5 separate regions of the Homo sapiens genome follow, and all the other regions are linked to region 3. Evidence: fine-mapped QTL for protein levels in blood plasma. Region 3 holds a variant in brackets. A gene starts in each other region. All regions are shown on their forward strands. Distances are between the middles of the regions. Region 1 holds the start of TLR3 (toll like receptor 3). Region 2 holds the start of MFAP5 (microfibril associated protein 5). Region 3 has its middle 63 kb from the start of OBP2B. Region 4 holds the start of CTSV (cathepsin V). Region 5 holds the start of CD207 (CD207 molecule).

What was found. PIP is the chance, under the fine-mapping model, that this variant and not a neighbour inherited with it causes the effect. The UK Biobank Pharma Proteomics Project read protein levels with antibody pairs (Olink). The fine-mapping took linkage between variants from a reference panel, not from the people measured, so its PIPs are less certain.
Region 1: TLR3 starts here. The variant in region 3 is fine-mapped to the plasma level of the TLR3 protein (UK Biobank, PIP above 0.99).
Region 2: MFAP5 starts here. The variant in region 3 is fine-mapped to the plasma level of the MFAP5 protein (UK Biobank, PIP above 0.99).
Region 4: CTSV starts here. The variant in region 3 is fine-mapped to the plasma level of the CTSV protein (UK Biobank, PIP above 0.99).
Region 5: it holds the start of CD207, and the variant in region 3 is fine-mapped to the plasma level of the CD207 protein (UK Biobank, PIP above 0.99).

Annotation. Positions count from the first base shown.
Region 1 is chr4:186,066,296-186,072,223 of GRCh38, forward strand. TLR3 (toll like receptor 3) reads left to right here and starts at 2,861. Exons shown (of 5, transcript NM_003265.3): 1 at 2,861-2,953.
Region 2 is chr12:8,659,924-8,665,851 of GRCh38, forward strand. It overlaps MFAP5 (microfibril associated protein 5), which reads right to left and starts at 2,903. Exons shown (of 10, transcript NM_003480.4): 1 at 2,704-2,903; 2 at 2,124-2,183; 3 at 940-975. The coding sequence starts at 2,181.
Region 3 is chr9:133,269,281-133,274,981 of GRCh38, forward strand. It overlaps the pseudogene ABO. Among named protein-coding and RNA genes, the nearest start is that of OBP2B, 63 kb to the left of the region's middle. RefSeq lists enhancers at 1-1,314, 1-261 and cis regulatory regions at 6-13, 12-36, 75-100. The variant A/G (reference allele first, on the strand shown) is at 5,134.
Region 4 is chr9:97,036,998-97,042,925 of GRCh38, forward strand. CTSV (cathepsin V) reads right to left here and starts at 2,145. Exons shown (of 8, transcript NM_001333.4): 1 at 2,074-2,145; 2 at 921-1,056; 3 at 496-618; 4 at 255-401. The coding sequence starts at 1,046. RefSeq lists a silencer at 2,180-2,489.
Region 5 is chr2:70,833,322-70,839,249 of GRCh38, forward strand. It overlaps CD207 (CD207 molecule), which reads right to left and starts at 2,495. Exons shown (of 6, transcript NM_015717.5): 1 at 2,383-2,495; 2 at 2,170-2,286; 3 at 325-699. The coding sequence starts at 2,455.

The sequences.
Region 1 (5,928 bases), not on the chromosome of region 3:
AAATCTTATAATGAATTGACTAGACTGCCTACAGACTATACACTATCTTTGTCTATAGGTAAAATGGTTGTAATTGGCCGGGCGCAGTGGCTCACGCCTGTAATCACAGCACTTTGGGAGGCCAAGGTGGGTGGATCACGAGGTAAGGAGATCGAGACCATCCTGGCTAACACGGTGAAACCTCGTCTCTACCAAAAATACAAAAAATTAGCCGGGCGTCGTGGCACGTGCCTGTAGTCCCAGCTAGCTACTCTGGAGGCTGAGGCAGGAGAATTACTTGAACCCGGTAGGCGGAGCTTGCAGTGAGCTGAGATCGCGCCACTGAATTACAGCCTGGGTGACAGAGCAAGACTCTGTCTCAGGAAAAAAAAGATTAAAAAAAATAAAAACGGCTGTTTTATTAAGAATTGTTATTAGGAACGGGCAGAGAAGAACAGTGTCTGTGTAGTTCAGCATGTGAGTGGTAATTTGCTAATTATATCTGGCTTGTCACTCCGGTCTCTGTAACTTGCTGTGTTTTGTCAAGTGATTCTTCCAGAAATTTTGTGTATATTATCTTACTAAACTCTCATTAAAGAGGCCCCTCAAATGGAAGAAGGGAACTTAGAGTTTTTAGAATGTGAATAAATTTAAGGGACTTTGGCTTCTAGAATTCTGTAGATCTCTGTTTTGCTGGGAATATACAGCTTCCCATTATTCTGAGATTGGCTGATCTGTAATGCTGTGAAATATCAGTGTTTACTAAATTTGTTATTTTACATTTATGGGCATACATTTTTTTTTAATTCTCTCTCTCTCTTTTTTTGAGACAGGGTCTCCCTCTGTTACCCAGGCTGGAGTGCAGTGGCGCACTCATGACTCAATGCAAACTTGAATTTGCCTGGACTCAAGTGATCCTCCCACCTCAGCCTCCCAAGTAGCTGAGACTATAGGCATGCACCAACATGCCCAGCTAATTTTTGTAATTTTTGTAGAGATGGAGTTTTACCACGTTGCCCAGGTTGGTCTTGAACTCCTAGGCTCAAGCAATCTCCTAAAGTGTTGGGATTACAGGCATGATCCACTGCTCCCAGCCTTAATTCTTTTAAAAAGGGGAAAAATGAGGTTTTTCACTATTGCTCCAATCACCATCATAGCTAAATAAGTTAATGCACATAGTTAAGAAATGTACAGTAGAGAGAAAACAATCTGTGTTGTATTTAGAAACTAGCAAGAATTAAGGACTAATAATATCTGAATATGAACTGGTATTAAGCCCAAACTACTGCATCAGGAGACCATCAATAAAATTTATTTATCGAGAGCCATTCATTAGTCAACCAAAGTCGTGGGAAATTTAATCTGTATAAGGAGTCATAAGGCATAAGGGATAGGTATGAAGGATTGTTGAGATGATGTGTTTTATTTCGCTAATAATGCATATGACACCATTCCAATTTTTTTAAATTTAAAACAACAATCATTTATTTGCTTGCTTCTCAAGCCTGGGTAATCGTGTTTGGCAATGAGACCTTGTTGCATGCTTGCTAATATCCCACTGGTCAAAGCTAGTCAAATGGCCAAGCCTAGAGTCAGCGTGGGAGAAGGCCACACAAGGGTTTGAATTCTGAGGACGAGTCTCTTTCATTGAAGGCCAAAGAAACAGTCTACCTCAGAGGGTTGCTGGGGAGCTATAATGCAAAGAATAAACCTCACCCTGCCTTCAAGGCGCTCACAGAGAAGAAATCTTTTGAATATTAGTGAAGTTTTCCTGGACATCCCAATGGATAGATGTGAGGGACAGTCACGTACTCAGGACATCTGTTTGCTTATGGTGTTATGTTACAGATGTCACAAATGAAAATCAGAGACATGTAGCCCTGAGCCCAGTAACTATAAAGCGGTCTAGCTGAAGCTGGAGCCCACAAGAGGGCACTTTGCACCATGATGCACGCTTGTTTCTTGCCATCAGCTCTGCAATGAGTTCAAGCTAATGCCATGTCCCAGCCGTCCAGTTGTTTTATGACTTGTGTGATTGAAGCATATGGTGGCTTGTGGCATGTTCTTAGGCAAACCACTCACCTCCCTAGGTTTCGTTTTCCTAATTTCTCAAACAAGGGAGTTAGATTAGGTGGTCTATAGTTCCTTCCAATTGTGATATTTCACTATATAACAATATAGTTATAATAGATCATAGCACATCTGTAATGAAAAAAAGTGAGTTCATTTCTTAACAAGTACATTTACTTAACTAGTTGGAGTCATTAAAGCAAATTAAGAACGAAATTCTTAGTTAATCTGAACTTTTCTGGGCATACTGATCTGTTCCCTAACGCGTCTGACCGTGGAAAAGTGGATCAGCAGGAGTGGGACTGGCTCTCAGCTTTGCCATGTTTGGCTCTTTCTCTGCTGTGAAACTCAGTTTCTTCCTGGATCAAGAGGTTAATTTCTGCCGGTGTTATTTTACAGTGTTGCAAAGAGATAAAAGCCAGACGAAAGAAGGGAAAGTACTTCAGCTTTGATTAGGGATTTTTTTTTCTGTCCCTGTGACCATACACTACTCAATTCTGACAGCTTCGCATGAGTCTAGCAGAAAATTGAGGGATTCACTGTTATTCCTTAACTTGCAGAGGTCCAGACCCGCCCACATCAAATGGTGAGGTCCCCACTTTCAACTTTAGCTGTTGCTAAATCTGTGACCCTTTCAATGAAATCCAAGGATCTCAGCTTAAAAAAAGTTAAAATAAAATAAAAACTAGGTGTTTTTCAGAGGCGGTTTGAAACGCCTCTCTGAGGTTGTCAGAGATTGTTTTTGTTTTCTCCCTTTGCCCTTCTTGGAATGCACCAAACATAAAAGCATTTTTTTTCAAGCTTTACTTTCACTTTCGAGAGTGCCGTCTATTTGCCACACACTTCCCTGATGAAATGTCTGGATTTGGACTAAAGAAAAAAGGAAAGGCTAGCAGTCATCCAAGTAAGTGAAGGTGTTCATTTCACGTTCTTACTGGGCAGGGTCTCTCTTGCTGAGTAGAGTTTGCTAGCAGAATGCATGTGGTTTTAGCCTTCTTTGGTCTTTCTTTGATCTGGTGCTTGAAATCTAGTCAGAATTATTCAGGAAGGAAAGTGGAAGAAAAGGGATATGATATGGGCATGGGAGAAGGGTATAACTCAGAACACAAGTAATAGCACCAATATCTAGTTAATGTGATAATGTATTTATGCAGTATTTAATTTTTTTCTCTGTAGCATTCTGTACCTGGAAAAAACACATTAGGGAAGCTATGGAAATCATTTTGCAACAGTCTTTTTAGCAAATCACATCTTTGCCTTAAAGAAACAAAACTCCAAGAGGTTAAAAGAGCGTATCCCCTTTTGTTAGTTTTATTGGCTGGAGGGGAGACAGGAGCTGGCATTGTATGACAATGTCTTAGATAGGAGAGAACATTCAGGTATGCCTAGGAGTAAGTAAATGGCTTTCTTTCACCTAATGAAGGATAATGGAAGAAGTGGAGAAGTGGAAAGTTGTTAAGGTGTATGGGAAGATCAGAAACTGGTATCGGCAATTGTGGGGTACTCGGGTAAAAATGGAGTTGGCTTCAGCAAGTTGATTCCCAGGTTTACAGATGATTACGTGCTGGTATGTGTCTTCATATGGGCGTGCCTGTGTATGAACCTACTACAAAGGTTGCAAAGTTTACAAATCAAACTATGGATAGTGGTTAACTCCAGGTAGTCTGCCTCCAGACCCCATGTCCTAACCATCAGGCAATATTGTCTCTCACTTGGACAAAGAATGTGAATTCCATGTGCCCTCACAAAATATTTCCAAAATTCTAAGGCTGAGTGAGTCTCTTTTTAATTTTTTTTCATTTTCTTTATTTCTGCTAGATCTCATTCAACAGCAACGTTTTCTTCACTCTCATTTCATCCTTTAACTGCATTTTTGCTTGTTTTACTGAAGCATGTCCTAGAATAACCTTTTCATACAGATCGTATGGCTATAAACTTACTGAATTTTTGCATATCTCAAAATACTTATACCTTTTTATTTAGTTATTCAGATGGATGTGAAATTTCCCTATCTTATTTTATTTTATTTTATTTCATTTTATTTCATTTATCGATTTAGAGACAAGGTCTCGCTGTGTTGCCCAGGCTGAAGTACAGTGGCATGATCGTGGCTCACTGCAGCCTTGACCTCCCTGGCTCAAGCAATTCTCACACCTCAGTGTCACGAGTAGCTGGGACCACAGGTGTGAACCACTATGGCCAGCTAATTTAAAAAAAAATTTTGGTGGAGATGAGGTTTCCCTGTGTTGCCCAGGCTGGTCCCAAACTCCTAGGCTCAAGGGATCCTCCAGCCTCAGCTTCCTAAAGTGATGGGATTACAGGCATGAGCCACAGGTAATTTTCTTGGCCTGGTCAAAGGTAATTTTCTTGTTTTTTAGAGGTAAGGTCTTGCTCTGTTGCCCAGGCTGGAGTGCAGTGGTGTGATCATGATTCATTGCAGCCTTAACCTCCTGGGCTCAAGCGATCCTCCTGCCTCAGCCTCCCAAGTAGCTGGAACTACAGGCTTGTGCCACCACACTTGGCTACTTTCTAAAATATTTTTGTAGATACGGGGTCTCACTATGTTGCCCAGGCTGGTGTTGAGCTCCTGATCTCCTTCTGCCTACACCTTCTAAAGTGCCGGGATTGTGGGGATGAGCCACTATGCTTTGCCTGGATATGAAATTTTAAATTCAAAATAATTTTCTCTAAATGTTTGGAAAGCTTATCTCTATTGTTTTCCAGTGGTTCATGTTACTGATGAAAAGTTTTTTATTAATCAAGATCTCTTTTCTTTGGAAATGAAGGTTTTAGGATTTTTGTGTGCATGGTTGCAATTCTGAAATTTCATAGGAGTCTCTCCAAGTTTGTTCCTCTTTCACTCCTCCTGCCTAGCATTTGGTGAGTTTTGCCCACTGATGAAATGTCTTCAGATGGGGCAAGTCCTTAAGTCATTCAGGGATATGCTTTGTAATGGATTAGTCCTTCTCAGCAATTCTGACCTATAGCAGGAGCCCTACCAGAGGGGTACATCTCACCTAAGCAAGGAGAATGTATTGTAGGGACCTTACCTATGAGTTGGTAAATAGAGATAGGAAGTTCTGAAGGAACTGGAAGAGAGGTTTGGGACACTCTCAGAGAGGGGGCAGGTGGGGAGCTGGTCCCCAGCATTTGAGAGGTATCATTGCCAGCCCTGCATCCTTCACGTGCCTGGGCAAGTCAGCAAATGCATCCTTGCTGGCCTAGCTGTGGCATTCCTCATGGCCTGTGGATATAAAGAATGTGCACAGCTTTACAATGATTAGTGCCAGAGTTGTAAAGGCCATGAGATGGGAATATTAGTTTATGGAAGCCAGTTTTTTTTGTTGTTTTTTCTGTTTCTGAGAACTAAATTAGAATATTAGTAAAATCGCTATTTTTAAGTATATTAGAACAATTCTATATACTCACATTAGTTCTGTTTTCCTAGGATTAGTCACCTAAGGTGATTTTATTACCTGACACTTACCTGGAATAATTTTCATGTCATGACTTTTAGATCTTGTGGAATATCTATTTAGATATCATTACCACTGCTTCATCTCCATACCTTGTGGGTGTATTTGATTTTTTAAAATATCTGAAATTTGGTTGTTGATCACACCACAGAGTATCACACTGGGTACACATCCCACCAAAATAAAGTGTGACAATGTATGGAGTTGAGTGGCTTTCCTGAGCTGACTAAATGCCCATGGAAAGCTATTGTATGAGTGCATTCTCACATTGCTCTACAGAAATACCTGAGACTGGTCATTTATAAAGAAAGAGGTTCAATTGGCTGATGGTTCTGCAAGTGGTGCAGGCAGCATAGCAGCCTCTGCTTCTGGAGGAGCCTCAAGGAGCTTTCACCCACCACAG
Region 2 (5,928 bases), not on the chromosome of region 3:
TGGAGCGCTCTGTCCTCTAACTCTCCTGGGATGGGAGAAATAAAGAGATAAATTATAATTATGTTGAATGCCTTGAGGCAGAATGGAGTTTTCTTCATGAAGTCGAAGGAAGTGGTCCTCTAGGGGTCACAACTTTTGGGATTTTTGTTATAGAGAATGGTGTGAGCAAAAATTACCTAAAAAGCTGAAAAACCAAAAAATACCTTTTGGGTTTTGCTCAGTTGTGCCACAATTTCACCTAGGATTGACATGACTTCTTTTTTTCTAATTTTTTTTTTTTTTTTTTAGTCAGTTCCACTCTGTTGCCCAGGCTGGAGTGCAATGGCATGATCATGGCTCACTGCAACCGCAGCCTCCTGGGTTCAAGCCATTCTCATGCCTCAGCCTCCTGAGTAGCTAGGACCACAGGCATGCGCCACCATGCCAGGCTAATTTTTTTTTTTTCTAGAGATGAGGTCTCCCTGTGCTGCCCAGTTTGGTCTCAAACTCCTGGGCTCAAGCGATCCTCCTGCCTCAGCCTCCCAAAGTGCTGGGATTATGGGTATAAGATGACTTCTTATCCTGTCTTTCATTTTTCCACTGTTACATGAATTAAGGAACGCTTTTTGTAAGGACTAGTAAGCATTTTCTGAGTAAGATAGGAGATGTGTAAAGAAAAATGAAAACAGAAATGGTCATAGAGGATGTCTTGGGAAGGTGTTTCAGTAGTTTAAAAACACACACACAAGAAGCTTTTATGAATGGGATAATAGGATTGTGGAAACTGGTGAAGTTGATCCTATTTCTCACACTTTGGCAATGCATCTCTTTGTTGTAGGAAATATTCTTTTTTTTTTTTTTTTGGCAGCGATAGATAAGCAGGAAGGATTTTTTAACTCTGTTCATCTAAATTTTCCTGATAAGAACCCCAACAGAGCCGCTATCCAAGGGTTCACCTACCTCCTCGTTGACTATTGACCCCCAGGGGTATCCAGTCTATAGCAAAGGAAGAGAAAAGAGATGTGAGTGACTGCAGCTCTATACCTCGTAACCCTTTTATGAGACAAATCAGAAAATCATGGAGAAATGGTTATACTTTATCTTTGTGACTTATTCCTATATAGCTCAATATAAAATTACTGAGACCATTAGTGCTATGAACAAAACCAATAGGAATAGAAAGACTTCAGAAAGACAAGTTCCTTCACTGCTGTGCATTTGTTTGGTAAAAAGAAAAAAAAGACAAGTTCCTGAGAACAAAGCCCTGCTGCCCTCTTACCCTCATTCCTGGCCAGGAATGAAGTCCAGCTCCACTGAGAGGCCTGGCAGCCCTTCTAGCCCCACGGCTTCCCCGCTAGCTATGCTAGTGAACAAGACAGAAGAATTATTTTTCTCAATCTGTATCGGAAGAAGGAGGGAAAAAAATAGAGTAGGACATCTTTACAGCCTAAAGTTCACTTTCTGTGGCCAGTCTTCTAGCCAGATTCTGGGAAATCTGTGAAGATCACTTTTCTCTTGTGTGTCAGTATGGCATATATTTTTTGCATGCATGTGAGTATACCTGCATGCATGATGGTAATAGTGTATGTATTCCCACTGTTCTTCTTCAAGATTTACATTTGGTCCAGTTTCTTTTTTTCTTTTTTCCTTTTTTTTTTTAATGGAGATGAGGTTAACTCATCTCACTATGTTGCCCAGGTTGGTCTCAGTGATCCTCTCCACTCAGTCTCCCAAAGTGCTAGGAGTATAGGTGTGAGCCCACCATGCCCAGCCCAGGTCCAGTTTCTTTCTAGGTAGTCCCTCCTCTATGTTTGTGTATGCATTTGTATATCAGCTTCTTTTTTGCTTTGCAATTTGTTTACTCATATGTGACCCTCTTTGGGTGGTTAATATGCATTTGTGTGTATCTTAGTTGCACCTTAGTTTCATAATTCTTGGGAGGCCTTTCCCCTAGTCTGAAGTCTAGTCACATTCCTGAACTTTTTTTCTTAACACAAAATCTGTTCTTCTAATAGGAATTCCAGAGCTCAATACCAAGCATCTCTACTGCTATTCCTCTTCGACCTCATTCCATCCCATCTCCTGCCACACACGTGTATAGCTGAGGAGCTGAGGGTTTAGGGAGCAAAGAATAAAGGACTCACCAGAGGTGATGATGAATGCAGCAAGAAACAGCAGCACCTTGGGTCCCAAGAGCGACATATCTATAGGGGTGGTGGGCATAGCAGAGAATGTGATGCTCAGAGGCACATCAGCATTTCAGTGCCAGGGAAAGATGCCTCTGAGGTCCCTGTCTCTTTGTCTTCCCAGAACTTTCTTCATTTTCCCTTATGACTCAAACCCTTTCTCTCTTTTCTTACCTTTCACCCAACATTCATTTCTCCCTCAAATCTATTCCTTGGTCACTTACCATTATTCTTGCTTTTATTATTCTCTGCTACCAAGTCAGAGGAAATTTTACATTCTACATGGTCCGTACTTGGCCCTACCCTTTGGCCTCTTTCACCCCTGATGTGGAATCTTCCTTTCTCATATGCGTGACTTTTTCATATCATCTGCTCATCTTGGCGTCTCCTTCATCAGAATTCCACGGTTATTTGGGAGGTCTGCTCAAGACTAAGTTCAGTGACATTCCCCATTGCCCCCTCCAGCCCTTTCACACACACACAGACATACACACATTCCCTCTGTCTCTTTAGGGTTTCAGGTAATCAAATAACTCACTGTCTATGGTGTTCTGCTCTTTCCACCGAGTCCTTTGGCTGCTGAATGTGTCTCTCTCCTCTTACGCTGTTCCTACTTTGGCTGGCGAATAAGATGAACAGAGCCACTCCCTGGAAAGGACTTCAGATTTGGCCTCCGCTGAAACAATGAGATGAGGGAGAGCAAGAAAGCCAGGCTAGGCGTAGAATGTGTGTTACAATGAGGCTGGAATGAGAAGGGAGATGGGAATTTGCAGTTGCTCACACCCTCATTCCAAATGTTATGACTACACTGGTGAGAGCTCTTGCTGCTCCCTGGAAGTGTTGGCCCCAGCTCATGTATTGCCTTTCTTCCATTAGCCTATTTTCCCTCCTCTCACGATCTGGTCCCAGCTCCCCTTTGTTCCTTGGGTTCTTTCTTACCGAAAAGTTCCGTCTCCTCCTTGGTGTGTTTTAATGCACATTATAGATGCTGTTTCTCTCTCTCTGGCTATCTTCTTCTTCTTTGTTTTTTGTTTTTTTTTTTTAAGACAGAGTTTTGCTCCTGTCACCCAGGCTGGAGTGCAATGATGTGATCTTGGCTCACTGCAACCTCCGCCTCCTGAGTTCAAGCAATTATCCTGCCTCAGCCTCCTTATATTCCATATTTGAATCATTCCTTCATCCTTCTTTCTCACTTTCTTTTTCAATATTCGTCTCTTCAGCACTAACAAATTTCTTTTTATTCCTGTATTTCTTTTTCATCTCTGCCTCTTTCTTGACCTACACATTTAGACTCTTCTTGTTTTTTTTCCCCTTGGAATATCCTATGTATTCTCACAACCAAGCGAACACAGATACCTTATGAGTTTTGTCCAAGAGGAAGGCTGGCTACCTTAGGGTTATAAAAAGTTGAGGAACTTTTCAGAACTCTCCAAATCATTTTCAAATGTAGAGAAGCTCTGTGAAAGGGGTGCCAGCCTTACTTTGTCTTTTGGCTTTGTTTGAGCTTAACTAAGAATCTGGGTTTCTGGGCTCTTAAGGATAAAATGCAATCAGATGCCCAAAGAAAATTGAAAGGCAAGGTTATTATGCTTGCCTCATTTTCTACCAATATTTTTCCTTAGATCATATAATGTGTAGATAACACTTTCTCTGATCCAGGATTTTTTCTTTTTTTTAAGATAGGGTCTTGCTCTGTCACCCAGGCTGGAGTACAGTGGCATGATCACAGTTCACTGCAGGCTTGACCTGGGCTCAAGTGATCCTCCTGCCTCAGCCTCCTAAGTCGCTGGGACTACAGGTGCATGCCACTATGCCAGGCGAATTTAGATGTATTTTTTTGTAGAGACAGGATTTTGCTATGTTGCTCAGCCTTGATTCAGGAATTTTAAAGGCTTTGTATTTCTTCTTATTCACAGAGACTCTAGTGGTTCAACCACTAAAACATTCCCGCTTTGGATTCAAGAGCAAACTTGAATTACAGAAACTCAAGTCTGAGGAATGGTGGACCTTGTATGCCATAGAAATATGTAAGTTTCAGGTTTCCTGTTGGCTCCCCTTTAGTCTACATTATATATCTCCCTGATGAAATAAATTAGAGAAGAGTACAGGTAGACAGAGAGCAGATAGTATTAATAAATTACATACTAGAAGAAAATAAAAGGGGGTATGATGGAAGGAAGGAAAGAAGGAAAGAAGGAAGGAAGGAGTCTAGTTGAGAGGAAAAAAGAGCAGTGGACACAGAAATAAGCAAATCGCACTTTGTAAGCACCTCTGGGACCTCCGAGGGAGCTGTAAGTGCTACATCTCTAAGATACATGGAATCTGGTCAGTCCGCAGAACAAGCTGAGTGCTACGCCCAGCTCTTCCTGATCTTCCTGCCCCAGAACTTGCTCTTCTTCCATCTGCTCCCCAGTGAAGGGGCTGAGACTAGAAAACAGATGTGATTCTAGTCTGAGGAGAGTCAGGGGAAGAAAAGGGTGTTGGGAGAAGAAACAAAAAAGCAGATGCAAAGCAGGACATAGCTAAGGCAGGACATAGAATAGAGAGCCTAGAGCAACAATCAAGTTTTCCATGAAGCTCAGACAGATGGAGACACTGAACTCAGGCCAGTCATTTGGCAGGGAGAGCAATGACCTCAATGTGCTGGCCTGGCTAGAGGCTATAGTTTAGGAGAGCCTCCCCAGGCAGTGGGAGGGGGCGTTCTCCTGGGGTTGTAGGAGGTAGTCTGGAGTTGGGGCAGTGAAAATAGGAACAGAATGTTCAGAGCAGGGCTGAAGAAGAGAACAGGCAGGGAGTAGCATCCTAGAAGGAAAGGAGAGGTAGTGAGACAGGAACTGGCAGAAGAGCAGGACAACCATATATTGTTGGGTTTTAAAGACTTTTGAGAATGCAGTTTGTTTCAAGGTTGGTTAGTTTCTTTTTTTTTTTTTTTTTTTTTTTGTGAGATAGAGTCTCGCTCTGTTGCCCAAGCTGGAGTGTAGTGGCGTGAACTTGGCTCACTGAAACCTTCGTCTTCTGGGTTCAAGTGATTTTCCTGCCCTAGTAACTGGGATTACAGGCATCCGCCACCAGGCCCGGCTAATTTTTGTATTTTTAGTAGAGAGGGGGTTTCGCCATGTTGGCCTGGCTGGTCTCGAACTCCTAACCTCAAGTGATTTGCTCCCCTCAGCCTCCCAAAGTACTGGGATTACAGGTGTGAGACACCACACCTGGCCAAGGTTGGTTAATTTTTTCATGGCAACTATGGCGGGCCCTTTATTCTACTACAGTTCCCCATTTGTTCTCAGAGCCCAGGTTTGGATCCCCAGGCTTAGAGATCCTCAGATTTGCTTTTCTCAGGGTGATTTTGTCAGCCTCTGTTGCATTGTACATTAATTAATCATTTAATGACATCAAGTCAAAATCAGCACCAATGGTCAGAAACGAGCAAATGCCATCCAGAGTTACAAGTCCATAATTTTCTGGGGTTCTTTTTGACTCACTGAGTAGCAATCCATACTTCCATCCCATATAGGCTGGATCTCCTGAGGGTAGACAACACATTCTCCAGCAATAAGAAAGCCCCTCATGGGACTGACTGGCGCGTGTAGAAGTGACTTAATGAAGGCAATCTATGTTTGAGTTACCCAGGAAAATTTTCGTTTTTATAAAATGTCTGTGAAAGATGGGCAAAGGGCAAAGAAAGAGGAGAGAGACAGAGATGCGAGATGTCAAGCTGGTTTTATTCATCTGTTTATTGGCTTGTAAAGAATACACCCATTAG
Region 3 (5,701 bases):
TTTTTCTGTGGCTAGTGAGCCTTATCTCTCCCTTTCCCAGGCATTGCGAAGACTCTGTTTCTCTAGCTGTGCAGCTGCAAGGTCACTAAACAGATAATCTTGAGTCATAAAACGTGTTGTTCCTTGAAAAGTAAGAAATAATGTAATGCATGTCTTAACTGAATAACTGTCTTTGTTTCTTGCTTCTGTAATACTCTTCCCCCTGCACAAATCTCCCCCCACCCCACAAAATGCTTAAAAGGTAGCTTGACTCTTTGTTTGGGGCCCAGTCCTTTGGATGTTAATCTGATTGGGTCGGTGCACCTAAATAATTAAATAATTCCTCCTCAACCCCATCGGTCTCTCTGATTCCTTAATTATCCCGCAGCAATACATGAAGCAAAAACTCACAGAATTGAAGGGTGAAACAGTCAATTCACCAGTAATGGTTGGGCCAGGCATGGTGACTCACGCTTGTAATCCCAGCACTTTGGGAGGCCGAGGTGGGTGGGTCACTTGAGCCCAGGAGTTCGTGACCAGCCTAAGTAACATGGCAAAACCCTGTCTATAAAAAATGCAAAAATCAGCTAGGCATGATGGTACTTGCCTGTAGTTGCAGCTACTCAGGAGGCTGAGGTGACCTAAGCCTTGGGAGGTGGGGGCTGCAGTGAGCTGTGATCATACCACTGCACTCCAGCCTGGGTGACAAAGTGAGACTCCACCTCAAAAAAAAAAAAAAACAAACAAAAAAAAAAAAACAAAAAAACAATAATTGGACACCAAAATCCTACCCCACTCTCAGTAATGGATAGAATAATTAGAAAGAAAATCAGTAGATACAAATGACTTGACATCACTGGACACCAACTGACATCTCTAGAACACTCCACCTGGCAAGAGCCGAAGTCACGTTCTCCTCAAGTGCACATGGAACAGTGTCCAAGGTCAATCATATGCTGGACCATAAAACAATTCTGAGAAATTCGAAAGGACTGATATCCACAGAGTTTCTTCTCTAGCCACAGGGGAATGAAATCAGAAATTAACAAAAGAAATTTGGGAAACCTATAAATACATAGAAATTAAACAACATAATTCTAAATAAGCAATGGGTCAAAGAAGAAAATCAAAAGATACACTGAGCTGAATGAAAATGTAAACACAACATACCAAAATTTATGAGATATAACTAAAGCTGTGTTTCAAGGGAAATTTATAGCTGTAAATGTCTACATTAGAAAAAAAAATCTTAAATCAAGTGTGTAAGCTTCCATTGTAAGTAACTACAATAAGAAAAGACAGAACGAATTAAACCCAAAGTGAGAAGAGTGGAAACCAATGAACTAGAGAACAGAAAGAAAAAGATAAAGTAAAAAAATATCAAATGGCAGTTCTCTGAAAAGATCAAGAGAATTGACAAAGCTTTAGCTACATTGACCAGAGAGAGAGAGAACACAAATAACTAAAATCAGGACTAAAAGAGGAGACAGCAATTCCAATCTTACAGAGATTAAAAGGATTTCAAGGAAATACTATGTACAACTGTTTGCCAACAAATTATGCAACTTAGGTAAAATGGACAGATTCTTACACATAAACTAGAAAGCGGTTAGAAGAAAATATAAGATTAAATCTTTGTGACACTGGATTAAGATTTCTTAGATATGATACCAGATACACAATAAAAGAAAAAGTTAATAAATTGGAATGGATCAAAATGTAAAACTTTTCTACTTCAAAATACCAATAAAAAAGTGTTAAACTATTGATGGTTGAAAATATTTGCAAATCATATATCTGGTGTGTATATATATATATATATATATATATATATATATATATATATGATACTGTGTATGTAAAGAACTCTCAAAACTGAACAAAGGAGACAACTCAATTTTTAAAAAGGCAAAACATTTCAATAGGCATTTCACCAAAAACATATACAAATGGCTAAAAAGCACAAGAAAAGCCACTTGCCATCATTTGACCTTGGGGAAATGCAAATCAAAACTATAATGAGATACCACCTTTTACCCACAAGAATGGTATGTATTGCTGCAGACGTACAGACAGTGGAACCCTCAGCCAGGCGCAGCGGCTCACACCTATAATCCCAGGACTTGGGGAGGCCGAGGTGGGCAGATCACTTGAGCCCAGGAGTTTGAGAACAGCCTGGGCAACATGGCAAAACCCCATCTCTACCAAAAATACAAAAATTAGCTGGATGTGGTGGTACTCACCTGTAGTCCCAGCTACTCAGGAGGCTGAGGTGGGAGGACCAATTGAGCCCAAGAGATTGAGGCTGCAGTGAGCCAAGATCATGCCACTGCACTCCAGCCTGGGTGACAGAGCAAAACCTTGTCTCAAGAAAAGAAAAAGGAAAAGAAAATTAGAACCGTTATACACTGCTGATGGGAATGTAAAATGGGGCAGTCACTTTGGAAAACAGTTTGCTAGTTTCTTAAAATGTTAAATCAGACTTTCTGTATGACCCAGCAATTCCTCTGCTGGGTATCAACCCAAGAGAAATGAAAACATGTTCACACAAAGTCTTGTACACAAATGTTCATAGCAGTGCTGCGTGCAGTTTAAAATAGCTAAAAAAGCAGAAACAGCCGAAATGTCCTTCAGCTGATGAATGGATAAACAAAATGTGGTCTATCTGTACAATGGATTATTCAGTAATAAAAAGGAATTAAATACTGATACATACTACAACATACATGAATCTCGGAATCATTATTCTAAGTGAAGGAAGTCAGATGCAAAAGACCATGTAACACAGGACTCCATTCATAGGAACTGTCCAGAAAAGGCAAGACTGGAGAGACAGAAAGTGATTGTCTGAGGCCAGGTGGGAATGGGGAATGACTGCGGAGGAGTTCCAGGGAGTTTTGGTGGGCTGGGGATGGAAAAGTTATAAAATTTATTTCACAACTCTGTAAACTAACTGAAAATAATTCATTTGAAACAGGTGAATTTTATGGCATATCAATGACACGGCAATAAAGCTGTTTCTTTCAATGGTGCCATCAACCCCAGCCCCTTGACCCTAAGCTGAAGGAAGAGAGATGCTAGGTGTGTTCAGTAGGGCTCCGTCAAAGCTGATTTTTTGAAGTTATGGGCAGCATTCCGAGTAAGATGTGTTGTGGCAGGTCAGGTCTCACTAACGCAGGCCTCCCTAACAACTGTTTCAGTACTGACTGAGTGGTTAAATTAAATATTAAAAGCCAGTGCCCTTATAAAAAGGCTGGAATATAACAAAATCCCACCAAGAGTTTTGCCTAGACCTTTCCTGGGCCTTCAAGCATGACAAAATAACGAAGGAATTCTTAACAGGACCCATTTAGGATTAAACAAGTTTTATTGGGGATCTGAAGAAATTCCCCAGGACTCCACAAATAAGTTTACTGGGGGTCTGAAGGAACTTCCCAAACCCCCATGATTTAGGAGACAAGATAAGGGTTTTAGATTAAGTAAATTTACTGAGGATCCAGAGGAAGGTCTTCAGGACTCAGACCTTAGTTATAGATTAACATAAGTCAATTACTTATGTCTTGAGATGAATGCACACTTACACATAGACATATAGCTTAGAAGGTATATAAGCTCTGGAAAACTTTGTAATTTTGAGTTGGTCTGGAGATAATTTCCAGGTCTTCTCCTTGTAACTGGTTACAGAAATAAAAACTCTCTTTCTCCCCAGTTCATCTGCATCTCGTTATTGGGCCGCGAGAGATAGCAGCCCCACCCTCAGTTTGGTCCAGGAACAGTTTGATCTCTTCTTGGCCAATCTCTGGTGAGACCCACCAGAATGGAGGAGAGCCGGGACTGGGTGCACTGCCAGCTTCCAAAACTCCTGCACGTGGTCTCAGTCCTCCAGGGATTATGATGGGTGTGAAGGAGCTGAGCATTCTCTAAGGAGCCAGCACATGACACCCAGCTCACCGCCCACCAACCACATCCTCACCGTCATCTCCAAGGCTCTCTCATGTCCTCTTCCTGCCTTTCGGGGGATCACTCCCTCTGACTCCACTACCCTGCTCTCCTGCCCGCCCCAACAAGCCTGACTGATTTGTGGAGCCGGGCCTTCCCCATGTGAGCTCTTCTCCCTGGCATGCTTGTCCCCCAGATTTCCACACACTGGGTCCCTCGCCATTGGTGTCCCTAAGGACACCAGCTCACCAGCTCCTGGCTGCAGGCACCTTCTAGCACAGGCCTGCTTGTTCTCATCAGTGTTCAACCAACATTGGTTGGATGACTAAATCAACATGCAGAATGTGGGTAACCTGAGAATGGGCACTCATTTGCCAGGTTTCTCAAAGACCTAACCTCTTAGTCTTCAAGACGTTTGTCTTGGGTGCGGTCATGGGCCAGAGCCAGTGCCAGAACCCCAGGAGTATAGAGACCAACTGCCCGACCCTGGTCCTCCAAGGCTCCCTGACATGAGACCAACTAAGACAGCATAACCCGTGGGGCAGGACAGACTCCTGGGGTGGCAGCTGTGTTCATCATCTTGACTGGGTCAAGATGTATCCAGCTGTACCTTTCATGTGCGGTTTATTGTATACATCCGTTGAAACATATTAAGACAAAAAAGGGAAAACAAAGACCACAAAGGAGGGACAGGGAAGAACCCGGAAGGCGCTGGCAGCACAGGGAGGAGGCAGGTGTTTGCAGTCAGACCTGAGTCCCAGGCCCCACTCAGCCCTTCCTGCCTAGGACCAGAGCACTGTCCCAGATCTCTCCAAACCTGTTTTCCCGTGGGTGAAAGAATGACCCGGGAAGTATTTACCGTTCCTTCCTGAGAACTCAGCGATACTGAACACAGTGCTGCCTCACAGTAAACACTGACAAATGGTGAGCATTACTGAGGGCAGGGCCTCGACCTACACCATACCCGGTTTTCTTCATGAATTTTCCACTCCTCTGCCTCCCGCTCCTCCAGGGCTGCACCTCCGGGGCAGGAGCCCTCACCAAGTCAGGCCTCAGTATGCCTTATCCGCCACCTGATTCCAAATCAAAGTAAAACATCTCTCCCCAGATGTGTACACAGCACTCCTCTAAATTAAAGGGCTGTGTGCTGGCTCTGGGTACCCCACCCGGCTCTCCCTGGCCTTTGGCGTTGGGGTTCACTGGCCTGCAGCCTGC[A/G]CCCCGTGGCCCTGCGTTCTGCATCCCTCCCTCTGAAGCGACGTTGTTGTCTGGGTAAATACTCAATTCATCTTCTGGCGCCAAGAAAATTAAGGACAGGTGATCCACCCTCGGCCTCCCAAAGTGCTGGGGTTACAGGCCTGAGTCACCGCATCTGGTTGCCTCAATAATTTCTTCTTAACTCCTATATCACCTGAGGGCCCGGGGCACAGTTCCCCCGTCACGCTTGGCATTGAACTTGCCCACCTCGCCTTCCCGAGGCGCCTCCGCGTTTGGGGTATGGAGGCTGTTCCCGGTCAACCCGGGCGCCTGGCCGCCGTGCCCGAGGGAAGGGCTGGGGGGCGGGCAGGGCAGCCCAGAGCCTTGTCCTAGTCCAGGGTCGGGCGGTAGGTGCTGAAAATAGCAGCTCATGGAAGGCGGGGAGCGTGGAGGGGCGAGGAGAGGCTGGAGACCGCCACGGCGTCGAGGGACCCCGCTCTCACCAGGACCCGGGGACCCCGGAGACGAGCCCCCCGCCAGGCCGCGCCACCGCGCCCATCCTCCCTGCGGGTCCCAGGCACCCACAGCG
Region 4 (5,928 bases), 36 Mb before region 3:
TCGGGAGGTGGAGGCAGGAGAATCTCTTGAACCCAGGAGGCAGAGGTTGCAGTGAGACGAGATCACGCCATTGCAATCCAGCCTGGGCAACAAGAGCTAAACTCCGTCTCAAACAAGCAAACAAAAAAAACACCAAAAACCAAAAATACAAAAAACCCATCACCATATGTTGTGCCACCATCTACCACAGCAATGACACCAATTCCTTCTTGGCTTTCCTGTGGAGACAGGGTCTGAATCTGACGCTGTCTCACCTGATTCTTCACTGGCGTCACGTAGCCTTTCTTTCTCCAATCCACAGATTTGGGAAGATCAAGAAACAGAGGCTCACGGAACACTTTCCCCTTCCTGAATTTCTGGTTTCGAAAGCAACCCATCATCTGCCTGAATTCTTCATTGGTCTTCAAGGAGAAGTAAATAAAATGTTAAAAGCAAGACTATTTTGGTGAAGAACTGAGAAGCAGCACAGAGTTCAGCAATCCTTGCCACACTCACCATGTCACCAAAAGCATTCATGGCCATTGTGAAGCCATGTTTCCCTTGGCTGTATTCCCCATTGTGCAGTTCAATCATTTTCATATTCTTTTCCCACACTGCTCTCCTCCATCCTTCTTCATTCTAGAGGCAAACATATAGCTGGTGGACTTTATGTCTACTTACCCAACCCATGTTCACCAAGCCGATTTGCGGGCAGAAATGGAAGAGAAACCATGGCCAGGGATGGGTTGATACTTCTCTGGGAGCTGTTCTCCAAGCCAAGACACAATGGAGATATATGCCCATATTGCACCTATAATGGGTGCTGTTAGGTTATTGCCTGGTAAGGTCTGGTGTCTAGAAGCTACTCTCTGGCTATCAACTCCCAACAGCGAGGACCATTCTCTCCAGAGTCCCTCTGGACAGTTTCAGATGTTACCAACCGCGCCATATAATCTTCTGTGTGTTGCCTTCCACTGGTACCACTTTGTATCCAAATTTTGGTCAAATTTTGGAACAGCGGAGGCTATTCCCAAGCAAAAGGCAGCCAGGACGAGCGAAAGATTCATGTTTCAAAACCTAGAAAGAGAAAAGAAATGAGTATCTGATTAGACCAATCCTAAAAAGCCATCTTACAGCCCCCGTGGAATAGAAATATTTCAATTATTCTCCCTAGCATTTCCCCAAGGACTGTGGAAGAGGCTGAAACAGGCCAAGTGGAGGTATTTGATGGGCCCACCAAAATTAAAAGCAGCCTGCAGAGTTGGAGGCGTTGAAACAGCATATGCGATAATTTAGGGTATGAGAAGGGTGTGAAAGATACCTGACGGGTGAGAAGCTTAAGGCAACAACTAGAAAACTAGGAAAGAGTTGGTCCAGGTTTTGCACCAATTGTACTGAGGTCATCCAGGCAAAACCTCACTAATGAAGACGTACCATCCCAAGTAGATGCAAGCGGATCCCCAAGGAACACCACCTCACACCTTCTTGGCTGATACACAGCAGGAGATGAGCTATGTCTTCCAACCTCTCCTTTTGGAATAAAACCTTTCGGGAATCCCTTTCCAGGAGACACTGGGAAGGAGAGCACCCACTATTCCCGCCGTCCCACACTTGGGTCTGTGCTACTCGCTCCCCTAAACCGGGGCAGGGTCACAAGGCCGCGCCGCTGGAAGCCAGGGGCCCCAGGGCCAGGGCCCGGACCGAGGCAGGCAGCTCCCGGAGCTCCGGGCGGGCCAGGACCGGGGCCGCACCGCCTGCTCTCGCCCTCTGCACGCGCCGCCGCGCCCCGAGAATGTTTGCGGCGGTGCAGGGAGCGGGGGCTCCGCGGCCAGGCTGGGGGCATGAAGCCGCCCGGTCCGGTCCGGCTTCAGCCCACAGGATGACTGACCTGCCCCGCCCGGGCCCTCCCAGTGGTGCCGGCGCCTCCCTGGGGTCTCCAACCGCCCTCCCCCGTTCCCCACCTCGAGGCTGGCAGAGCTCCGGGCAGAAGCTCTCACTCCCAGAAGCGCCCGCCTCCTCTCAGTGTCCCTAAAGGGGGGTTCCCTCCTCCAGTCCCCCTTCGCCCTGTCCCTCGGTCTGGTCGGGGGCGCTCACCAGCAGCCGTCGCAGCTGCGCAGGCACCCTCAGCAAACAAGCCTCTGAGATTACAGACGTCCGCGGTCTGGTGCAGGTTCGCCCGCCTCGGGATTTAAGTTTCCAGGCGGCCTTCCCCGCCCCCACCGCCTTCCCGCGCTGCGATTGGCTGTGCCGGCCACTGGGCGGGGCCCCGGGCGCTTAGAGCCCGCGCGTGACGCAGCCCAGTCCCAACCCGTCTCAGGTCTGGGCGCGCCTACCTCAATACACCCTGGCTGCGGGAAGCTGGGCCGGGCGCCCGGGGGCTGCGCGGAGGAGGGGGAGGCGCCTCCCTCAAGGGCTCAGATCTACTGACTATCCCGACTTACTGCGCTGAGCGGGTGGTTTACAGCGAGCTCTGTGTGGTATTTCAGTCCCTACTTTAACTTAGTCCTAGAGTTTTTGGTGAAAATCTGCAGGGCCGGGAGCCAGGGTACTCTCGTTCAGTGGCTCCTGTTTAGTCCACGGCAAAGGTGGGACGGAGTGGAAGAACGCACAGCCCCCAGCAGAAGCATTACCTTCCACTTAAGGGTGGGTGCATCAGGGCTTTAGAAGAATCTGGTAAGGAAAGGCACTCCCAAAACACGGGATGGATGGTCGAGACCGGACACCAGGAGGGACGGGACTAGCTGATAGGGTGTCCAGAGACCGCGGAGCGTTTTGTGGTGCGTCCTTCCCAGTCTGTTGCATTCAGGAATTCTTCCTTCTCCCATGTCTTTCAATACCAAAAAAAAAAAAAAAAAAAAAAAAAAGAGTTACAGAAATATTTGGTTAATAAAAAAGAGAAAAGCGTTGAGAATGGTGAAATAAATTGCTTTAAAAATTTTTCTTTTGTAGAAATGGAGTTTGGCTAAGTTTCCTTAGGCTGCTCTTGAATTCCTGGCCTCAAGCGATCCTCCCCTCTCAGCCTCCCAAAAGTGGTGGGATTACAGGCGTGAGCCACTACGCCCAGTCTGAGAGTGGTGGAAATTGCTTTTACTTACCTACTCTCTGCTTATGGGTTACAACGTCTCTTCCTCAGTATTCAAAGTGTGCTTCTTTTGAGATTTAATAAATTTACTTTAAAAATGTTTAATACCGGCCGGGCGCGGTGGCTTACACCTGTAATCCCAGCACTTTGGGAGGCCGAGGCGGGCGGATCACGAGGTCATGATATCGAGACCATCCTGGCCAACATGGTGAAACCCTGTCTCTACTAAAAATGCAAAAATTAGCTGGGCGTGGTGGCGGGCGCCTGTAGTCCCAGCTACTCAGGAGGCTGAGGCAGGAGAATTGCTTGAACCCGAGAGGCGGAGGTTGCAGTGAGCTGAGATCGTGCCACTGCACTCCAGACTGGTGACAGAGCGAAACTCTGTCTCAAAAAATAAAAATAAAAATAAAAATATATAATATCAGGGTTGAGGTGATGCAGTTTGAGGAACTGCTCTTTATGGAGAAATATATGTAGCTAAAGATTTAAGGAAATCATTAATAATTCAGAAACGTTTCTAATTCTTTTTAAAGTTATATAAAAAAATCCATTATAAAAAATATGTTTTAGAAAATAAACGTCCCTTGTGCCCTCTCCATAACCCTTTTCTAGGCATATCTTTTTTTGTTTTTACAAAAATGAAGTTATAATGCATATTGATTAATAAACTCTTAAAGATTAAATTGAATAATATCCACAGTTTTTACTTGTTAATTTGAAAATTTGTGAAATCAAGTTTAGCCTAAAGCTGCCTCCCCATGTGATTTAAGTTTGGCCTAAAGGTTTCTCTGTACATAGCGAATTGTAATCTAAATGGAGGTGTAAACAGACTGTAGCCTGCTCTTGTGCCTATCCCCGAATTTCTGTAAATCAAAGAGGTTCAGTTGTTCAAACCATGTTCAAATAAGGCAAACATGGAGCTGTATCCAATCCTGCAGTTTCTGTGCCTCACTTGCCCTTTTCTGTCTATAAATCTTCCCCCATGTGGCTGCACTGGAGTCTCTCTGAGCCTACTCTGGCACTGGAGGCTGCCAGATTCACGAATTGTTTTTTGCTCAATTAAATTCTCTTAAATTTAATTTGGCTATGGATTTTCTTTTAACAAATTAAAAACAATTAAACTGACAACTTTTCAGAAGCACCATCAGGCAAATACATCTTTTTAAAAATCAATTTATTAATAATTATATGTCCTTCCTTTAAATAAATAGCAGCTTTTCCCTCTCAAATACAACTAGGGGCCAAAGCTGTCAGGTGGTTATATAAAAAATACAAAAGTATATTGTATTGCAGGCCAAGGTAGGTGGATCTCCTGAGCCTGGGAGTTTGAGACCAGCCTGGGCAACATGGCGAAATCACACCTCTACCAAAAATACAAAACAAACAAACAAAAATTAGCCAGGCATGGTGATGCATGCCTGTAGTCCCAACTACTTGGGAGACTGAGGTTGTAGTGAGCGGAGCAGAGCATGCGCCACTGCACTCCAACCTGGGTGACAGAGCGAGATGCCGTCCCAAAAAAAAAAAAAAAAAAAAAAAAGCATCTTGTACTTGTACTGCAAATTTGCCGTCTCAAAAAAAAAAAAAAAGCATCTTGTACTGCAAATAGCTGTTTTTTTTCTTTTTTAAAAATTAATCATTGTGTTGAACACAATCATCATTCACATGTGGAAATAAATGAAGACCACCACCTAAGAACAAACAGAGGCCATATATTCAGAACTTGCTATAACAAAGGAGATAATTCAAAGACGAGGGAGAAGAAAAGCTTTAGGGGAAAAAGGGGGCAACTTCAGCTATGTCCTCTTTGCAGAGTGTCGTCATGGAGAAGCTGAAGGAGGGATAACTAGAGATGGAGCGTCTTATGTGATTTGTTTGTGGAGTATATTTGGTTTTTCTGGTTTGTCCTGGGTTGGAAGCAGAGGCAAAAATGAGGAAGCTGTCAGCCACTGAGTAAGTCCTGACTGTTCTGAGTTGGTCTCTGCAGATATTATGCTTCATTTCTTCTGTGGGTCAGAGTTCTATTGCCATATACTATGGCCATTGTCTATTTGTTTACTCAGTCTATCACAAGAAAGCTAAGTTATTCTAACACGTGGGTTTTACAGTTGCCCTTGGGCCACAGCTCCCTAAGATTGTAGGGTGGAGAAACCTGCCAGGCCATTAAGATCTGTGCCTTAAGCAATAGCCTGACAGCAGATGAGTGGCAGGTGCTGCCCTGAAGAATGGCATCCCCTTTGTTTTTTGGAATGTGAGACAAAAGTAGTGGAGAAAACATAGACCCTTTTCAAACCAAGTGTGCCCCAAATCTAAAATTATACCAGAAATATGTAAATGCAGAAGAAATATGGGAGAAAGCCAATAAGCAAGAGGGTGGAAGACGTTATTGCTCCAACTTAGGACACCTATTTATATCTATTTATACACATCTGTAAAAAAATGCATTACAGAAATGTGGTATTACTAGCCAGGACAGTTGTATTTAAATATTTGTTTCTTTCCCTACTCTTCTATTCCTATTTCTTTGCAAAATAATTTTGATGAGTGATAATTTTTAGAACAGTCACATGTTAGTGAAGCAACCAAGCCTTGGTTATGCCTTTAATAAAATGGAGTTGGCAGAACTTCCTGATTCCTATTTAAAACGCAGTGCCTGTGAAAGTATATTCTCACGTGCATCTGTGTAGCTTTCTTTTACTCACTATTAAAAGAGGATATAGGCCAGCCATGGTGGCTCACGTCTGTAATCCTAGCACTTTGGGAGGCTGAAGTGGGTGGATTACTTGAGGTCAGGAGTTTGAAACAAGCCTGGCCAACATAGTGAAACCCTGTCTCTACTAAAAATACAAAAAAAGTTAGGCAGGTGT
Region 5 (5,928 bases), not on the chromosome of region 3:
CATGACAAGTGGCTGAGCCCCTGGACTCTAGAAAGGAACTTGATGGGAAATGACTAGGTGTGGGCCAGGGTGGACATCCCCTAATGCTTTTACATTCTGCACTTTTGTGTGGGAGCTCTAGCTGGACCCTGGTCTCTTTTCTCCTAACAGCCCCTAAGTCCTCCCCAACCTCAAGCCCTCTCTCCTTAACTTCCTAGCCCATGGCTGCCCCTCTTTTGCCCCCACTCTCCTCCCCAACCCACCAGCCCAATGGCCTCAGGTCTGGGACAGGTAAGATCCCATGGGCCACTGGTCAGCTTCAATGTAATTTTCTGAGTCACTTACTTTGTCGTTTGAGCAACTTGCTCATATTCTCCAAGCTGCCCTGGAGTGCCCGGATCTTTGTATTTAAAGCACTGGCTTTCTCCAAATCACTTTTTAACTCTGGGATTTGGGCATTTAAGGTACTGACTTCTTCCCAACTTCTTGTTAAGATCTGGATCTGTGCGTTGGCCTTCTCCACACTGGTTTTTAACTTCAGGAACTGAGAACGCACATAACCCAGGCTCTCATTCACCATCTGGATCTGAACGCCAGCTGCCTCCATGCCGTCACTATTCTTTTTAATTTCAGAATCCAGGGTGCTGATGTTGTCCACACGACCTTTCAGCAACTGGACATTGGTCTTTACATCTGATATGGTGCCCATAAACCGGGGATCTGGGATTGAGAAAGTCAGGAGGTCAGCTGAGGGGAGTCCCAGGGACAGGAGTGGGGGTGTTGTCAGGTTGATCAAAGGAAGGGAAGGAATAGGCTGAAGCTTCCCAAAGAACCAAGACAGTCCAATGGGCCACCCCAACCCTCCAATCATTCATTAACGTACAACAAACGTGCAATGGGCACCTACCATGTGCCAGGAACACAGGTGGATACAGATAATGGGGAGATTGATAAAACACAGGCTCTCTGTGAAAAGATTTCACAGGCAAGCAGAAGCAGGAGTTAGAAACCATTCCTGAATTTTCTGAGTGTTCAGGGAACATTTGATAAAGGGTGCCCTCCATGAGCCCCACCACTGTCCCCAGAACTTGATTCCCCCTAGACCCCACCCCTTGGTTGCCATCCCTCTGTTTTCAGAAACCCCTGCAGTGGCCATCTGCTAGGACAGCACCACTCCCCCACATCTGTCCATGGGCCCCTCTGTGACCATGGGAAGAACCAGCCACTAATCTGGAAGTGGCTTCTCCAGAGAACATGGAAGAGGAGATTACAAAACTGTTTCTCCCCTTCCCTTGCCCCACCCACTTTCACATTCTGCTCAGGTCCCAGGCCTGGGTACCAGAGAGAGGATCAAAGATAAACCAAGAGGCTCAAAGGCGAGCCCTGAGGAAAATGCGATGTTAGAGGCCAGGGGTCTAGGATGGGGCAAGGGGGACTCTGCTCAGAGCCTACAAGTCTAAGCCCAAATATGTCCCGAGGCCACAGAGGGAGAAAAAAAAACCCAACAGCTTCTTGGGTCCCTTTGCTCTGCTTCCTGGAGCCCTGGCAGGAGGAAGAAGGCTCTGCCAGCAGCAAAGGCCATGAAGCCTGACAGAGCCAGAAAAGGAAGAAAGATAAACCATGCAACATCAAATGAGCAGGAAGCCTCCCTAGATGTGATCTTCACAGGGACAGGAGAATGAAGACAGCACCAACGAGTCCTGGGGAGAGGGGACTGAGTCATGGAGATCTGTTGGCTCGTTGGCCAGGCTCTCCATCTGGTGAGCTGGGGCCAATGATACATGAGGCTCGGTCCTTCACAGGGTCAGGAGACATTGCACTGTCAAGGACTGTCCACAAGGCTCTAGATCCAAGGAGCAGAGCTCAGATTGGTGGGGGGTGGACGGGGAGAAAATAGCACAGGATGTAAAACTAGATCAATGTTTCCTGAGGACAAAAGAATGTATCCTTGAGCACCAATGTGCAAATGCTAATCCCAATAATCTCCCAGAAATTGGGAGGGAAAGAGCATCAGCTCACCGTACTGGGGGCAGCACAGCCTGTTACTGCACATGGAAAGAGGAGGAAGGAGACAAATGAAAAAGCCACAGGCAGGAGAAACCCGGAGAGCAGGGAAGTGGTCTCGATCTGAAGGGAGCCGGCTGGCCACAGAGAGGGGCTAAGCCCAGACGATGAAACATGAGGACTTACAAAGGACGGCCTGCAGCAGGACGGAGGCGACCAGGACCAGCGTCAGGCAGATTAATGCAGCACGGACTGTGGGTGTTTTCCCCGGGACCAGAGATGGACCGGACTTGGGAGGAGGCTCTGTTGGAAGAAGAAGAAAATGTGTGTTGAAGGAGCAGCAAAGGGCAGGTTTGCACACAGAACACGGAGCAGGTTCTCAGCAGCGATGTGGCTTGCCTCGGGGCCAGAGGGAGATGTTCTGTTTGTCCACAGTGAAGTGCGCATCAGGGGCCTCCTTCTCCACAGTCATCCTGAGTGCTCACCCTTATCCTGGGAGCACAGGTGCTTCTGGCTGCCTGTCTCTCCAAGGGCTCTTATCTAGAGGAAACAGGAAGTCAGTCCCACAGCAGGTCACCATATCATCCCAACTTCCCTATTCCTGACTAGATACCTTGTCTGGCTTACTCCCATCCTCAGAAGTCTGAGCTTTCAGGAAGAGGCCATTTGTTGTCTTCTCTGGGGGTCTGTTACATGGATACATTAACCATCTTGTCCCAAACCTATCCCATTTCTCTTGTAAGACTCTCGTCATCCATCCACCCATCCATTCACCCCACAAATACAGGCTGAGTGCCTTCTAGGTACTGATGCTCTACCAGGCATAGGGCCACAGTGATGAATAACTCGCAGTCCTTGCACCAAGCAGCTCATAGTCTGGTAGGAAAGACAGACATGAGCAAATAAATTGCAAGGTGATGAGCACAAGAGACAAATATGCCCAGTTCAAAGAAGCATATGAAATGGAGTAATGGGAAAAAAAAAAATCCAGTAGAAAGATAAGCATATGCCAAAGGATGGAGCATAAGATAGCATGGAGTGCTTGGCAAATTGTAAATAGTTGCAATATTGCTGGAATGTAAAATATACATTCCAACAGGAAGGGGATGCACACGGGGTTGAAGAGGCACCTGGGGTCTGATGATGAAGATCCTTCTGATCATGTCAAGGAGCTGGACCTCTGGCTTGTGGGTGACATGGGGCCAATTAAGGACTTCAGGCAGGAGAGAGACAAGGACAGGGACACTGTAGAAACATCACTCTGATCCTGGTGAGGAGCAGACTGGTGGGGAGAAGCCTGGAAGCAGAGATACCAAATAGGCAACCATTGCAATAGAATATCCTGCTTCCTGTTATTAATGCATCTTGGCTGATACAATATCCCTTTATAATATGCAACTTGGAGATTCAAAGTGTAAACCTAAGACTTGGGTTCTCCTCCCTGCTTCCTGCACCATGTGAGATTTTCAAAAAAAGTAGGGGCGCTCAGCAACCTCAGACTAGGAATCGTTCTGTTTCTCTCTCCTCTCTCTCTGTCCGCACCTCCTCTCTCCTTCTTTGTAGTCCTAAATAGAGAGTTCCATATGTGCAAGAAGCTCAGGGCACAGAAGAGCTGATTTGGGCTCAATGAAGGACTAAATTTTCTCCTGGGCGGCTTCTCATGCTTTGAAGAAGTCTGCCAAATCTGAGAAATTTGGCACATGGCAGACTCTAGACAAATATTTCTTGGAATATAGGAAAGAGGAGAGGAAAGAGGGAGGGAAGGAAAGAAAAAAGAAGGAAATTGGTCCAGATAATTGGAGGATGGGTGAATGGATGAATGGATGGATAGAGGATGCATGGATGGATGTGTGAATGGTAAGTGACTTGGAGACTTGATAGCTGATCATGCCACTCAGACATTTACACAGTCTGGGGCCTGGGATCTGCCTTCTAGAAGCTGCTGCTTTTTTCCACTGTCTCCAGAAGTTCTCATTCATCTTCAATGCAAAAGCATAAGGGGAAGTGTGATTTACTCCTTACCCAGGAATGAACAAAAGCTCTGGCCGCAGGAAAAGAAAGCTGTCCTGGGCCTGCTGAGGCTGAGCCAGTGGAGCTGGATGACAGCCTGTATCAGGGACCAGGATTAGAGGTTAAGTTAACAGGGCCAAGGAAATATCTACCTATGCTTTCAGGGGCTACTGCCACCTTTGGTACTTGGGAGGATAGTGGCTGCACGCTCAGCCCATGCCTATGTGCAGCTCATTGTAGTTACAGGCCCTTGATGCTCTCTCTCCAGCTAACCGGGCCTCAGGCTGGAGTGGCTTCTCGGACTGGATGAGGGAACCCAGAGAGGACCCCACACTGGGAAGCTCTGGGAAGGAAACTGGGTAGCAAAGATGGTGTCTCATTTGTTCTGTCCCATCGCTTCCCTACCCAGCCTGTCTGTAACTTCCAGGCCTGCTGTCTGCTCTAAATTTTAACATTTGATAGTCCCGAATATGAGGGCCTGGCTCCACATCACTGCCTGCCTCTGGGTGTCCATGAAGATTCCTACTCTCTTCAGGTGGCTCGTGTGGTTGCAGAGCCTTGGTTCCATCAGGGCTTAGACAGGATTAGAATGTTCCACTTCTGGACTCTCATGCTTGGGACCCAGCCTAACTCCAGAATCATCTCTGCCCTTCTGCTCCTGGCTCCTGGCCCTTCATCCATAGCCTGTCCTATTTCTGGGCCTGGGGATAGAGAAGAATCCAAATTACTCAAGACCCTGGTAGAAGGGGCCTTGCAGGGGTCCATGTCTCCTCCTGAGGCATTTGCGGGAAAGAAGCCGCCACACAGTGTGCCTGGGAAGTGTCTTGTCCATTTCCGCTCGGTCAGGAAGTTGGGTTTTCTCTGCTGGTTTGTGGTATGAGTTATACTTTATAGAGCCCCCCAGATGCCCTCTCATTGGTCCCAGGAAAGGATGAGGAAGCCTTAGCGGCTGGGCCCATGGCATAGGAAGGGGCTGGAGCAGGGAGCATTTACTCCAAGTGATGGAAATGCAGGCTGAGGTAGGTAGAATAGCTACCGCTAGGCGAAAGGCTGTTCCAGCATGAGGAAGCTGAGCAAAGGCATGGAATCCTGGGCTGTGGGCCTTCTGGGGTTTCAGAGGAGGTGGATGTAAAAGTCCCAAACCATAGGAAGTTTCATTTCCCACTTTGTGGAGAGGGAGGGAGTCAGAAGCCATCTTCCTATTATCATGCTCATCTACAGGTCTTTCCTGAGCACCTCTCCTGTGCAAACCTCTGGATGCTCTATCTGGCACCTGGCCTGGCAGGAGAAAAGACAGAGAAGCAGGCAGGTGCCTTGGCCACACTTTCCAGTCAGGAAGGTGGGCAGTTCTCCCGGGCACTCAGACAATGCCCTGCTCTTCCAAACAGAAGAGGAACTCTGGCCAGACCTAGTGACCAAAAAAATCACCGCTGTGATGAGAACGGGAAGTCTGTGCTCATTTTTTTAGTTTCTCCTCTTCCTGTGTTCCTGGGGTTCTAATATTTTCTCTGGATAAGGATGGAGGAAGAAAACAGCTTGGTCACTTTTTCCCTTTCTCTGGTTGAGACTATGGTTGGGCCCAGCCTTATGCTTGGAGGAGAACCATGGGTTTAATCAACAAGACTGGAACAGAGACCTGGGTTGTATGAAATGCTCCAGCAGTGCCAAGAGTCATCTCCAGGGAGGAGTCACCCAAGTCCCTCAGTCAAGTCATGGAGGAAAGTAGAGTGAACACCAAATTGCGGAGTGGGGACAGGGAAGGAGAAGAGAGGGAGGAGGGGAGAATGACTCTGAAATGAGAGGAGATTACAGCTGGTCACACCTGGCTTACATAGGGACTCCTGTGATGTGATGCGGGATTTGGCCCACAGCCTCCAAAAAATCAAGGGATTCCATGCCACCCTCCGGACATGCGCCCTGGGCACAGGGGATAGG